Homo sapiens: one gene and its partner. The protein of the gene in region 1 interacts with the protein of each later gene in a pairwise test. Each region holds a gene or a part of one and is shown on either strand. Other genes may lie near its edges.

Region 1 (8,041 bases):
GATGCTAGGCATAAGATTAATTTAAAAAAATCACATCGAGCTAAAAATCTTCTGCACAGGAAAGGATACAGTCAATAAAGTGAAGAGACAACCCACAGAATGGGGGAAAATATTTGCAAACTACCCATCTGACAAGGGATTAATAACCAGAATATATACGGAGCTCAAACAACTCTATAGGAAAAAAAATCTAGTAATTCAATCAAAAAATGGGCAAAAGATTTCAATAGACATTTCTCAAAAGAAGAGATATAAATGGCAGACAGGCATATGAAAAGGTGCTCAACATTGTTGATCATCAGAAAAATGGAGATCAAAACTGCAATGAGATGTCATCTCACTCCAGTTAAAATGGCTTATATCCAAAAGACAGGCAATTACCAATGCTGGTGAGGATGTGGAGAAAAGGGAACCCTTCTATGCTGTTGGTGGGAATGTAAATTAGTACAACCACTGTGGAGAAAAGTTTGGTGGTTCCTCAAAAAACTAAAAATTGAGCTAGCATACAATCTAGCAATCGCACTGCTGGGTATATTTCCCCTAAAAAGGAAATCAGTATATTAAAAGATAGTTGCACTCCTGTATTTGTTGCAGCACTGTTTACAATAGCTAAGACTTGGAAGCCACCTAAGTGTCTGTGAACAGATGAGTGGATAAAGAAAATGTACATATGCACAATGGAGTAGTATTCAGCCATAAAGAAAGAATGAGATCCAGTCATTTGCAACAACACGGGTGAAACTGGAGATCATTATGTTAAATGAAATAAGCCAGGCACAGAAAGACAAATGCATGTTCTCATTTATTTGTGGGATCTAAAAATCAAAACAGTTGAACTCATGGATATAGAGAGTAAAAGGGGATAGTTACTAGAGGCTGAGAAGGGGAAGGTGGGGATAGTTAATGGGCACACACAAAAAAATAGAAAAAATGAATAAGACCTACTATTTGATAGCACAATAGGATGACTATAGTCAATAACAACTTGATTGTGCATTTAAAAATAAAGAGTGTAATTGGGTTGTTTGTAGCTCAAAGGGTAAATTATTGAGGGGATGGATACCCCATTCTCCATGATTTGCTTATTTCACGTTGCGTGCTTGTATCAAAATATCTCATGTACCCCATAAATGTATATACTTATGTATATATTTACTCCCTCCATTTTTTTTTTTTTTTTTGAGATGGAGTCCTGCTCTGTCACCAGGTTGGAGTGCAGTGGCTCGATCTCGGCTCACTGCACCCTTCCCCTCCTGGGTTCAAATGATTGTCCTGCCTCAGCCTCCTGAGTAGCTGGGACTACAGGCATGCACCATCATGCCCAGCTAATTTTTTTGTATTTTTAGTAGAGACAGGGTTTCACCATGTTGGCCAGGATGGTCTCGATCTCCTGACCTGCTGATCTGCCCGCCTCGGCCTCCCAAAGTGTTGGGATGACAGACGTGAGCCACTGCACCCGGCCAATGTTTTATATATTTAAAACATAAAAATATAGTTATTTTATATATTTAATGGTTGTTTCTAAGTTTTCTTTAGTGATTTGTCTGATAGTGTTCCTGTCAGTTTATTGATCTCTTCTAATTTTTAAGGTATTTTAATATATTAAGGATATGGAGTTTTTGACTGATGTTACAAATACTTTTCACCAGTTGATTCTTAAGGATTTCCAAATAAATGGACAGAATAATGAAATTTTAGCATTAAGAGACTTGTTTCATTTAGTTTTAGTTTGTTTTCTAAGAAATGTGATAAATGAAATTTTTGAAGAGAGCAGCTATTTGGTGATGTATGTAACATCTTTGACCTTTATTTTTATTTGTTTATTTTTGAGACAGGGTCTTATTCTGTCACCTAGGTGGAGTGCAGTAGTACAGTCACAGCTCACTGCAGCCCCAACATCCTGGGCTCAAGCCATCCTCCTGCCTCAGCCTCCCAAGTAGCTGGGACCACAGGTGCGTGCCACCATGCCCAGCTCATTATTGTATTTTTATTTTGTAGAGATGGGGTTTTGCCTTGTTGCCCTAGCTGGTCTCAAACCCCTGGGCTCAAGCGATACGCCCGCCTCGGCCTCCTAGAGTGTTGGAATTACAGGCGTGAGCTACCATACCCAGCAATCTTTGACCTTTAGATTTTAACTTTACTACCTAAAGATTTTGAAAAGTGAAATCAGATGTTTTGTACAGATATACTGTATATATTCTAGGTTGATAATACCTGGTACCAGGGAAGAAAGATTAGCAAGTTATGAATTACACATTTGTGTATTTTGCTGTTTATAAGGTTTTTTTGAGCTGTTCATTTCAGTAAAGTTTTCTCTGTTAATGATAACCTTAGTAAAGGAAAGAGTATTTTGATTTCAGTAGTGTGTTGGAATTTAACTTAGGTATTTGACTGCTGAAAACTATGATCAAAGTTGGTCATTACTTAGGTGATTAATTTGGGAAAGAAGTGACTAAACTGAAATATACTTAACATTTTCGTTATGGTATTGACTACTGTAGTGATTTTCTGTGTCTACCTTTGTTTACATTTTTTATTTCATCAAGATAAATTCCAAAATGTAGAATTCCTTGTTCAAAGAATATGTACATTTTTATAGCTTTTGATACGTTTCATAGCATTTGATACCAAATGGCTTTTGAAAATAGTTGATCTAATACATACTTTTATTATCAGTAGATGAGTGTCTTTTTTTAATACTTCAACATTGGATGTATTTTTTAAGAGTCATTATCAGTTTGGTAGATGAAATATGATAGTGCTGTTTAATGGTAATTTCTTGGATTACTGCTGAGACTCTTTTTTATATGCTTAATGACTATTTCTAAATTTTTAAAAATGATTTGCTTGATGATGTTCTGTCAGTTTATTCCTTACTGAATTCATCTCTATTTTTAACACATTTCAATATATTATTAATATATTAAAGAATATGGATCCCTTGACTGATGTTACAAATACTTTTCCCTAATTTGTTTTTATGTCAGGCTTATTTTTCAATAATAAAGTAGTTAGGATTTGATGCCTTTATATGAAAATGAAAATTTGTGTTTTATTCTACCAGCCTTTGGAAACCGATATTGGTATTATAATTTTAAAATTGGAGGCAGTTCCAAAGTACATCAATAAAATCTTTGTATTTGAATGTTCAAATTCTTAATTTGAAAATTTAAAATGAAGTAGTCATATAAAACTAATTTACTATGTTTTGTTGCCAAACTTGGTTTTCTAGGCAGTTATACTTAAGCATGAACATTGACGACAAACTGGAAGGATTGTTTCTTAAATGTGGCGGCATAGACGAAATGCAGTCTTCCAGGACAATGGTTGTAATGGGTGGAGTGTCTGGCCAGTCTACTGTGTCTGGAGAGCTACAGGATTCAGTACTTCAAGATCGAAGTATGCCTCACCAGGAGATCCTTGCTGCAGATGAAGTGTTACAAGAAAGTGAAATGAGACAACAGGATATGATATCACATGATGAACTCATGGTCCATGAGGAGACAGTGAAAAATGATGAAGAGCAGATGGAAACACATGAAAGACTTCCTCAAGGACTACAGTATGCACTTAATGTCCCTGTAAGTAATTCCTTTATAAGATATTAAACTTAGAAACATAATTTTTTGTTACGTAATACTGCAAGTCATCGAAGAAATTTCAGAAAATGTTTCAGGGCTAAATAGTGTTCTTGAATAGATATACTAAAATATTGACATAAATCATATTTGAAAGGCAAAATTAAGTTCTTGTATTATATTATTTTAGAAGCTTATTTCTTTCAGGATAACAATATTTCTCAGGATTATTTTGGTATTAAATTTTAAATGCTTAATTTTAAAAGATATTTTATCTAACTTCTAGGTTTCTCCTTAAAGAGTAAAACATTTGAATCTTCAACGTAACTAGAAAAATATCACACATTCAAGGGTTTTTCCTACAAATTCTGTAATTCTTGCCTTCTTAAATTTTTCTAATATGCTCCTATTCTCTGTTCTCTTTGTATCCTCCGCTTGCTTGATCTGTTTATCTTTTTAAAGTATATCAGCCCTTTACTCTTTCCTATCTACCTCAGACGTCATTTAAGATGTTTCATAAGCACCCATATGTTTTTCCTTCTTCTACCTTTATTTTTACCCAATAATCAGTGAAACCACAACCATCATGTAAATTCTTGTCTCTTCTTTCTATGATATCAAACCTGGGTTCCTTTCAGTTCATCTAACATGTACTTTTTCTTTTGCTTTAGGACTTTAATATATCCTGCTTGAGATATTACCCTCAGTCATACTTCATACCTGTTTTATAACCTCTAGATAGTGCTCCATCATCATCAGCCTGTCACTTCTCTTGACTCTAGGTTGAGTCCCTGTGATAGGGACTTGTGATTTACTTGTACGATGCTTCTCTGATGGATTGTAGACTCCATAAGGACAGGAGTTTTGTCTTACTTTTCACTGTAGTCCAGGTGTTGGCACATGGTGTGAATGAGCGGATAACTACTTGTAGTTGTGCTCTGATACATACATTCACCAGCTTTACCTAGCCCATTGCAGTAACTTTTTCCTCTTTAGCCTGATGATGTAATGGATTACATTAGTTGATTTTTGAATATGGAAGCAACTTTCATACCTGGAATAAATCCTGCTTGTTTGTGGTATATAGTTCTTTTTAGATGTGGTTGGATTTGATTTGATCATATTTTGAGGATTTTTACATTTGTGTTCATGAGAAATATTAGTCTATAGTTTTCTTGATGTCTTTGTCTGTTTTTGGTATTAGGGTAATGCTGGTCTCATAGAATAAATTAGCAAGTATTCCCTCTGCTTATATCTTCTGGAAGAGATTGTAGAGAACTGATGTAATTTCTTCCTTAAATGTTTGGTAGAATTCACCAGTGAACTGCTTTGGGTCTGGTGCTTTCTGTTTTGGAAAGTTATTGTTGATTTGATTTCTCCTATAAATATAGGTCTCTTCAGATTATCTGATTCTTCTTGTGTGAGTTTTGACAGATTGTGTCTTCCAAGGAATTGGTCTATTTTGATAAAGTTGTCAAATTTGTGGGAACAAAGTTCATAGTATTGTTTTATTATCCTTTTAATGTCCAGGGGTTTATAGTGATGTCCTCTCTTTGATTTCTGATATTAGTAATTTGTGTTTTCTCTTTTTTTCTTTTTTTCTTGTCTTAAGACAGTAATTTAAAAAAATTACTGTCTTAACAATTCCCTTTTTTTTGGTGTATCATTTACTAAGTTAAATTATATAGGGTTTTTTGGGGTCTGTAATTGATGTACATTTGATTTTAAAAAGACACTGTCTTATATCAGGACAAAGCAGATTTACATACAACTATCAGCAGAAAAAATTTCTGTGTGATCTGAACAGAGGTACTCTTTTCTTTGATCATAAGAAAATGCAGTACTTTTAGAAGGTAAAGCTATTAAGATTACAGAAGTTTTACCAAAATGCTTTAAGCAAAAACTCTTTTAAGAAAAAGGTATGAGTTCTCATTTTCTATTCTTAGCATAAATTTTAATACTTTCTAATAGAACCTAACTCTTCTGAATGCCTTTCAGCATCATCCAAAGCTTGAACTTCTATTTCTGGATTAAAAATTCATTCACAAATGAGCTGTGCAATACGATCACTTTTTCTGACTTTAAACTTTTTTTTGCCAAAATTAAACAGTACAGCACCAACATTTCCTCAGTAATCTTCATCTATCAATAAAGTGTTTTGCAGCTAATCCAAACCATGGAGCTACTCTTCTGTAACATCCAGAAGGAAGAGCTATCTGAATGTCCATTTTCCCTAGAGCTTTCTCCATAGGTGGTATTGTATCATCATAGGCACCGTTGAGGTCATAGCCTGTGGCCTGTGTGGATCCCTGAGTCAGGGTTGTGGCCTGCTCAGAGAATGGGGCAAAACGGAGCTGCATGCTGCCTTCCTCTGCAAACCAGCCTGTTTGCTGGGGGTAACGGTGGGTGTCTCTTCAGAGCAGGGCATGGCAGAGTGAAAATGCGAGCAGAGGAGAGAGCAACAATTTTTAAGTGTCCATTTTAGTAGTGCAAACTATATTGACATTGTTGTACAACAGATCTCTAGAACTTTTTCATCTTGCAAAACTGAAACTGAAACTCATGTTCGAACAACTCTGCATTTCCCCCTGCCCAGTGGTAGAGGCTTGCTTATTTTATTGATATTTTCAAAGAAACAGCTTTTGATTTTCTTGATTTTTTTCCCTCTATTTCCTATTTTCAGTTTCATTTATTTCTGCTCTAATTTTTATAATTTTTTTCTGCTTGTTTCGGATTTAATTTGCTCTTCTTTTTCTACTTTCCTAAAGTGGAAGCGTATTCATTTTAGATTTTTTGTTTCTAATATATGCATTCATACTATAAATTTTCCTCTAAGCACTGCATTAGCTACATTGCATAGATTTTGATAGTTGTATTTTTATTTTCATTTAGTTCAATATATTTTAAAATTTCTGTTAAGATTTCTTCTTTGGACTGGGTGTGGTGCCTCACGCCTATAATCTCAGCACTTTGGGAGGCTAAAGTGGCGGATTACTTGAGCTCAGGAGTTTGAGACTAGCTTGGGCAACATGACAAAACCCCATCTCTACTAAAAATACAAAAATTAGCCGGGCATGGTGGCATGCACCTGTAATCCCAGCTATGTGGGAGGCTGAGGCATAAGAATCACTTGAACTCCAGAGGCAGAGGTTGCAGTGAGCCAAGATTGTGCCACTGCACTCCAGCCTGGGTGACAGAGTGAAACTCTGTCTTTAAAAAAAAAAAAAAAAAAAAAAATTCTTTGAACCATTATTGTTTAGAAGTGTGTTGTTTAATATCCAAGTATTTTGAGATATTTTCTAGCTACCATTCTGTTATTAGTTGTAGTTTAATTCTGTTGTGGTCTTAGAGCAGACGCCATATGATTGCTATTCTCTTAAGTTTGTTAGATTGTATTTTATGGCCCAGAATGTTGTCCACCTTGGTGAAATGTTACGTGCGAGCTTGAAAAGAATGTGCATTCTGTTTTTGTTGGATGAGGTAGTCTATAGATTGCAATAGACTGGCATTTTTATTGGACTGACAGTAGCCTGCGCCTTCTCCAGTGTATCTTTCAGATAGTTTCTACAGTGATCTTTCCAAACGAGATGTATACATGTCATTCCCTTACTGAAACTTCCCCAGTGGTTCCTCATTACTAAACAGCTAAAATGTACTTTTTTGCATGGGCGGAAATAGCCGTCATAATCCCGTCCCTTATCCAACTTTTTTTTTTAACTGTAGTTCAGCCCCTTTCGCCACCATTTTATGCTTTAAGCATATCAAATTAATTTAGTTGCCTAGGTCCACTATGGGTTTTTTCTGTTACTTTTGTTCATGTCGTATATGCCTATAATATTATTTATTTGGCAATTTACTGTTACTCATGTTTCACCTTAAAAGATGTCTCTTTCTTGTGATTTTTCATTATGGTAACTATAATAACTTTGCATTTCTTTGCTTGCAAGACTGTCTTGTCATTATATTTTAAGGTATTTTTTTCTGTATCCTGCCTTTAAATTTTGTGTTCTCAATACCTGGGTTATAGTAGGCAATCAGATTTTTTTTGAGTGAAAATATACATTCTGTTTTTAATTGAGGAAAAGTTTAAAGTGAAATGTTCAGATTCTGAGTTTGTAGTTCAGAGTTTTGACAACTGCATAAACTTGTATAATCCATAATCCATCAAGATACCAAATGTTTTAGTAATCCTGGGAAGTTTTTTTGTAATTCTTCCCAGTCAATTCCTCCACAACAGTTGTTCTGATATTTTTTCTTCATAGATTGTCATTGTCCTTGATGAGAACCTCATGTAAATGGAGTTACATGTAACTCTTGTGTCTGGCTGCTTTTGCACAACATGTTTTGGGATTCATCCATGTTGGTTGAATGTATCAACAGTTCATTCTTTTTCCCTATTGATTAATGTTTAGTCATTTTAATTAATATCAAAATTTGTTTATTCATCCTCCTTTTTGTGGTTA
Region 2 (7,516 bases), 9.2 Mb from region 1:
ACTCCTACACCCACCCAATCCCCTAGTTAGGTTAGGTGCCTTCTTATGTGCACAGCACTTCTCCTGTCCCAGCACTAACCACACTAGATTACTCTGGCAGCTTGTTTGTCTTTCTTGCTATACCATAAGTGTGTGAGGGCAGGGACTTGGTAGTTGGAATTGGATATTTGGGGCCTGAATGAATGAAAGAAATCTCTTTCTGATCTGAGTAGGTTGCTCATTTTGTAAATTGTAGCCTTATTAGTTAGGCTATTAAGCAAATTTCCTACATTTCTGTTGGAAAGAGAAAAGTTGCTACAATTTTTTATTTGTTTTGTTTTCTAATCTACCATCCAGGCCAACCCATGGCCAGCACAGACATGATGGAATAAAGACTGAGCACTACAAAACAGATCTTCATTCTCCAAGAGGACAAGCGTCGGATAGTATAAACCCCATGTCTAGGGTGCTAAGCCCCCTGAGTCCTCAAATCAGCCCTTGCAGCTCCACCAGGTCTTTGACTTCCTACTCTCTATGTAAAACTCATTCTTTGCCTTCAGCGCTAGATACAAATGAAGCCAATTTTTCTGACACTATGTCTGAGAGTATGAATGACCAAGAAGAGTTTATATCTTCGGTATGGAAACTTTCTGATCTTAGTAATTTGTTAGTTTTTTAAGTTTGCTTTGATTTTTTATTTTAAGGGTGAAGAAGGTGATTTTTTTTTCCTTACTGATTCTTTTATCATAAGTACTCTTCATTATTCTTAGGTATCCCTGTCATACAGTTTTTGCTTGTGAAGACACTTTCGGCCAAGACTACTTTTCAAAATGTTCTGAAATATGTTATACGTATTCATTTGTCTTTAACCCTTATTGGAAATTCCCTTCTTGCCCTTTTCAGTGATGCTCAATTTTCTTCTGGAATGGTTAGTTCAAGAACTGTCTCTGGATGCCAAGATAGTCCTGAGGCACAGGCAGTGAAGGAGGAAAAGAGGAACTGCTGGAAAGGAGAAAGGGAGTGTGGAGGGGGAGGAAGGCTGTGCCTCTGATGTGTGCAGAGCATGGCTTGGGGGTCACAGATGGTGGCCCTCAGGGCAGAATGTGCCTTGGACACCATGCCGGTCCCTTGCTCCTTCCATTGCTGGGCAGGCTGCACCATCTTTTTGCCTTCTGCACCAAAGCACTTGCCATGGGCCCTTCATTTCCTGTCACCAGCTGTGGCCATATAGATGTGAAAGTGCAGTATTTCTGACTTATTAATGTGCTACCAAGTCCATGGAAAGGTTTTCTTTTATTTTTCAAAATAAGTCCTCACTTCACTTTCTTCCTAAGTTTAGCAGCAAAATTTTTTTGGCACCAGAACTTTCCCTGGCCTGAACTGATGTGTTAGTATGTATAGACTTTCTCTATTCCACTTAGTGTGAGTATCCATGTGTTTTGCTTCAGAAATATCAGTGTGTTTGGTGATGGGATGTTCCCTCAGACTCCACTGGGGTAATACAGTTGATCCTCATTATTCACAGATTTTGTATTTGTGAATTTGTCTACTCCCTAAACTTTATCTGTAACTCCCAAATCAGTATGCGCAGCACTTCCACAGTAATTCGTGGACATATGCAGAGTGACAAAAAATTTGAGTGACCGACTTGCACAATCCCAGCCAAGGTCGAAGTAGGCAGCACTCTGCCTTGTTGCCCCTGCTTATGCGGAGGTGACCATAGGGTGGAGATGGACGGGACAGCGCAGTGTAGGGAAAGAAGCTCAGCTCCATGCCAGCTGGATAGAGTCTGAATCCCAGCTTCAGCACCAGTTAGTGGGGCAGCCTCAGGAGAGTTACCACTTCTGAACCTCATGTCTCTCATGTGAAATAAAAAATACAGAATCTACCAGAATGATTTGTTCTAGGATTTAGGATTATGCTCTCTGTGTGGGGTATGTGTGTATGTGTGTGTGTGTGTATTTGTTGTATGTGTGTATTTTCCCTGGGCCAAAAATTCTGTGTTTGCTAATTCAGTGTTTTGGGTGACTTTATAGAACACAACTACTGCTATTGTGAATGAGTATTGACTGCATATGGCATATGTTCTATGTTACCTTTCTAAAATCAGAATTCTGAAATATCACTAGCCTCAAGGGTTTCAGATAAGGGACTGTGGACTGAAAATTTGGAGGAGAAAAAATAATTGATTTTAGCTGGCATCTAATTTATTTTTGTTAAATTTTTGTGCTTTAAAATAAAAGTGACATACTTAGGTTTTTAAAGTGAGTTTGAAATAATAGGCATTAACTATGGAAGCATATATAAGTCTAAATTGAAACATTCTTCAGACCAATAACTAATATATGATACTTTACATTGTTACAATTTGGGTCAGAAACGGAGAGATCTGTGTTAATTTTTGCAGAACTTACTGATTTTTGTTCTTTTATTGCTCTTGTCATTAGGATGAAAACCAAAAAAGTATCTTCAGAGGAAAAAAATCACCTTTTAATATTGCTAGTTAGAAAATGTCATGAACAGTGTATCTTAGAAATATAATATTCTACTTATTTACACATGTCAAAATTTGTGTCTCTTCCAGTGTTCCTTGCCTGTATCTCCCCTTGGTTCAATAGCTACCAGATTTTTGGAAGAGGAGGAACTGAGGTCTCATCACATTCTAGAGCGCTTGGATGCCCATATTGAAGAACTAAAAAGAGAGAGTGAAAAGACAGTGAGACAATTCACAGCCTTAAAGTAGCCTCTTAAAAAAATCACTATCTTGGAAATAAAAATAAACACCAAAGAGTTACTGTCATCTGAAGTAGCAGCTCTTTAAAAACATGAAGAGATAAAATTATAAAAATGATACATCTAAAGCAGTGGTGAAGAAAGCTGAAAAACTGATACTTTTGATAGGCATTTTCTCTGCACTGGTTTGTTTAAAGGACTTCTTCCAGCAATAAGTTGAAAGAATAAACCACTTTGCTAGACTTTTTTCTCATACGAATATTTATTATCATAAAGTGATACTTACCTTGCTGACTTAAATGTGAATAGCTATGTACTAATTGAAATAAGGATTTTATGATACATGTTGAAAATAAAGTAACTGCAGGAACTTTCTTTAGGGGAAATGTGTAGAAGCATGGATTTAGGGGTCAAACATACCTGGATCGATAGACTGGTTTTGCCACTTACCAGCCAACGGGGCTTGTTATTTACTGGGCTGGTAGCCCCTCCTAGCCAAGGGGCTGGTAGTGTGTAAAGTCAGGCTGGTAGTGAATAAGGGGGGGGTGTGCTAAAGAACCTTATCAAGCAGTCCTCTCTTGCTCAACACTCATGCAGAGGAGAGAGGCAGGGAGGGCAAGGGACTGGCTGTCATGCACGGTGCCCATGGAATATCCATTGGAAATAAATGTTCATCGTCTGCACTGCTGAGGACAAGTTTAGATGGGAGACAAAGATCTGGATGTTGATGTGCCGCAGGCATTTGAAACGATGGGAGTTGATAAGATCCACCAGGGAGGCTGTGGAGAGAGAGAGGAGCAGGAGGCTGGGTTTGGGGCCCTGAAAGATGCCAGCATCTGAGGATCACAGGAAATAGATCTAGCAAAGGAACTAGAATGTGCAGTTACAGATGAGAAAGGTCAGTGTAGTGTACTTGCCAGCTCAAGGGTGTGGCCTCTGTGAACCCTCTTTCTGTAGTGGATCTTTCCCATCAGCGTAAAACATCCTGTTATTTCCCCTTTTTAAATAAAACCTCAGTTTTTTTTAATGCCTCTCTTTTACTGCTCTGTATGTTTGCTTCCCTTCACCCAAACACTTCTGGAAAGAGTTGTCTGCAGTGACTCTTTCCAGTTCCTCACCCCGCCCCACCGTAGTTCTCTTCCTAACCCTCTCCAACACCACTTCCATCCCCAGACTGCTTTCTTGCTCTTGAGTTCACCAGTGACCTAATCAGTGTCTGAGCATCATTCAGCACAGTTGGACTCTCTCTTGGCTTCTGTGACCTGGAACTTCTGGTTTCCTCTCTACCTCATCCTCCACTCCATCTCATGGCTTTTCCTCTTCTAACCTCTAAGTCAGAGGGCCCCCTAGAGCTCTGTCATGGGTTTTCTCCCTCAGCATTCTCTTCCCTAGAAGTTTCCATTCCATTCTCAAGCTCTTAATACCACCTATAGGCCAGTGACCCTTACATTTATTACTAATCTTGACCTCTCCCCAGAGCTGCTGTCTTAGATACCTAGCTGCTTATGCGATGTCTTCACTTGGATATCTGACAAACATCTTGTTTCCAAGAGAGAACTCTTTATTCTCCCTCTTGCTAAGATTCCATATCAGGACATAGCATTATGTTTGCCAGTTCCTAGGAGTTACTTATAATTCCTTCCTTACCCACATCCGCATATCCAGTCATTTGGGAGGTCCTGTCATTTCTTCCCCCAGAATCTTATCTCAGACCCAACCGTTTCCCTCCTGCACTTCTACCACCTGATCCAGACTACTTCTCTCTCACCCTGATTCTGGCAGTAGCCTCCTAACTGATAGTACTCACACCAGTAATTCAGGGAGCTTCTGGAGTTATCCTTTAGAAATGTAAATGAAACAGTGTCACCACTGCTTCCCTTCAGACTCTTCCAAGGCTTCTCTTTTTTTTTTTATTGAGACAGAGTCTCACTCTGTCGCCCAAGCTGCAGTACAGTGGCAGGATCTCGGCTCTCTGCAACCTCCACCTCCCGGGCTCAAGTGATTCTCCTGCCTTAGCTTCCCGAGTAGCTGGGATTACAGGCGCATGCCACCAGGCCCAGCTAATTTTTGTATTTTTAGTAGGAACAGGGTTTCACCATGTTGGTCAGGCTGATCTCGAACTCCTGACCTCAAGTGATCCACCCGCCTGAGCTTCCCAAAGTGCTGGGTTATAAGCGTGAGCCACTGCACCCAGCCCCAAGGCTTCTTACTGCACTCAGAATAAAATCCAAATGAATTAGTATAGCCTACAGAGTGTCAATAATCTGGGCCTAATCACCCATTGCATCATCCTTTACTGTGCTCCACCCATGCTGGCGTCCTTTCTGTTTATTGAGTGCAGCAAGCTTTAACCTGTTCGGGTCTTTCATTTGCAGTTTACCCTGAATATTCCCTTTCTCTTACCTCACCTTTGATTGGCGTTTTCCCCCTTGCAGACCTGCACTCTGGCATCCTCTCCTGAGCAAGCCTTCTTTGATTGCTGCCTCCCAAACCTGTTTCTCCCCATTTCTCTAGCTCATTGGCCTGTGTTACTTGCTTCATAGTGCTCACTACTATCTGAAATCATTTCATTACTTGATTTATGTTTGTACTGTCTATTTCTGTCTTTAGAATTAAAACTCCTTGAGGGCAAGGACTTTGCTTCTCTGGTTCATGGTGGGATCCTCATCACCCAGCACAAGCCCAACACTTAGGAGAGGCTCAGCTAGTTTGAACCAATGGAAAATGCCATTCCTGAGGTGCACCACATCGTTTCTTTTGTGTTGGTGTGCATGCTGTCCTTCAGTTTGTCTCCTCTTCCCACACCCTGTCATGTGCTCCTAAAACTCCCCCTTTACTTGGCTACTTTATCTGGCTTGGCAAAGCTTTCCCATATCCCCTGACCCATGTCAGGGAACGTTTCTCCTCATTGCTGTCATGGCACCCTGTGTGTGGCTCTGACCAGACTTTGCTATCCGCTTTGATTTCTGTCTTTCAGGGGCTAAGTCCTGCCTACATCCTCAGTCAGCATGCTGCCTAACACATAACAGATCCTAAGCAAATATTGGGTGGATGAAAATCACTACCATTCAAGGCTTCATTGTATTTATCAGTAAAACTGAAATAATATCTAATGGGGTCGAGAAGATTTACTGAAAATATATATTTGAAAGGGCTTTGCAGTTTTAAGTACTGTACCTATGTGCATTGCTGTTACATTCAGGAGATTTCTGAGTTTTAGACAGTCCCAAGCTTCAGCTTAAAATCTGTAGACTGCAGCCCGTTTCTGAAACGTTTGTACTACGTGTTGACTAGGAGGAACAATGACAGACTCTGTAGTCACCGGAAATACTTAAGGAATCATGAGGTACTATGTATTTCCTTAAATTATACTGTTTTTTAAAGCTGAAGTATCTAATAGTTAATGGGTTGTCCAAATTTGTCAGAACATTTGACTGTAATTTAATGTCTCACCATTTTTCAAAAAGATATATTAATACCAAATATTAAAATGTGTCAAGACTAAATCTGAGTTAGTGTCTTAACACACATTTTCCAAAATCTGTCCGTGATCAGGGTACCCAAATGAGATGAAAAGATTAGGGATTTGTAGTCTACATCTGGTGTTTACAGATAATGTTTTATTGGGCAAGTCATCTCATTCTTCTTGTCCTGGATTCCCATGAATTTTCATCTGGATTCCTACGCAGATTTTAGCTGAAGAGGGCAAAGTTGACTTCCCACTGTGGGCTGGACATTACCTTCCCTTGCAGACTCATTTGATCTCAACAAGTGTAGAAAAAATACTACAACACTCTGTTTCTGTGACATCTGCTTAAACCCAAACAATTCTTACCTTCTCTCTCTTACATACACATAACACCTGGTAAACTGTGGGTGATGATTTTCTGTTTGCAAAACACTCGAGTCCAGTACCTAAAAGTTGCAGATAAGAAAGATAATTATAAAATAAGCTCTATGGCATGAGAACATACGTTAAGCAAACAGTTGTCATGAACAGCACTGAAATGTAGAAAAAGTTAGAAATGTGTCAGCTTGTCCCAAAACAGTTTGAAATAGTATAAATGCATCAAAAAGTAACAAACAGAATCGGGGCAGAGGGAAAATGAGGGCTGTAAACATTGATTCACTAATGAATCTAGTTGTCCAGTCCAGTTGCTAGAGGAAGGCAGCCAAGTTACCTCTGAGCTTCAGAGGGGGAAAAGCAGAGGAGAAAACATTTACCTAAAAGTTTTATGGTGCCCATAAGATAAAAAAAAAAAAAAATCATAGACTTAAGAAAAGCACAGATTTTTTTTGTGTGTTTGAATAAGCGTTTTGTAAAGTATGTGAGTATCCAGAAGAGAAGTCCAACATTTTCATAACTGGTAATAATAATCTGCACAGCTCCCCCCACAGTATGCTTCACTGTGGGTTGATGGCATAAGGCTGACATCCAAATTCAGAGGAAACTGTTCTGAGAGGGCCACAAACATGATTGCGTAAAGCTCTCATGGCCTGAAAAGGGAAAATTTAGAGGGATGATAGACTGCTTTAAACCAATCTTTTGTAAAAGCTATTTCTCCGCAGTGCAATTTTGATAATTCAGACATACAATTCACATCTTTTTTTTTTTCCCTCTCTGTGAGGAACTAGAATTTGGGAATTTTATGTTGCCCATTAAGACCAGGTTCAATTATTTGACAATCATCCAGTCAGAAGAACTTTTGCACTCCTCTTACAAAAAGAACGTAAGGCAGTAGTTGATAGGGGAAGGTCTAAAACTCCTTGATATTAAATGCAAAACATTTATTAATGTTAATAA

The links. Proteins that work in one complex are often made in the same cells at the same time.
Region 2: the proteins of ZNF148 (region 1) and CEP63 interact in binary tests that used the Homo sapiens proteins (3 or more experiments, as listed by UniProt).

Annotation. Positions count from the first base shown.
Region 1 is NC_000003.12:125,308,848-125,316,888, reverse strand, and holds part of ZNF148 (zinc finger protein 148), read left to right. Parts: intron 1-1,835; exon of another isoform or gene 1,836-1,952; intron 1,953-3,232; 5' UTR 3,233-3,248; coding exon 3,249-3,581; intron 3,582-5,391; exon of another isoform or gene 5,392-6,026; intron 6,027-8,041. UniProt on the Homo sapiens protein: Involved in transcriptional regulation. Represses the transcription of a number of genes including gastrin, stromelysin and enolase. Binds to the G-rich box in the enhancer region of these genes.
Region 2 is NC_000003.12:134,558,814-134,566,329, forward strand, and holds the end of CEP63 (centrosomal protein of 63 kDa), read left to right. Parts: intron 1-336; coding exon 337-616; intron 617-2,563; coding exon 2,564-2,722; 3' UTR 2,723-6,218; downstream 6,219-7,516. UniProt on the Homo sapiens protein: Required for normal spindle assembly.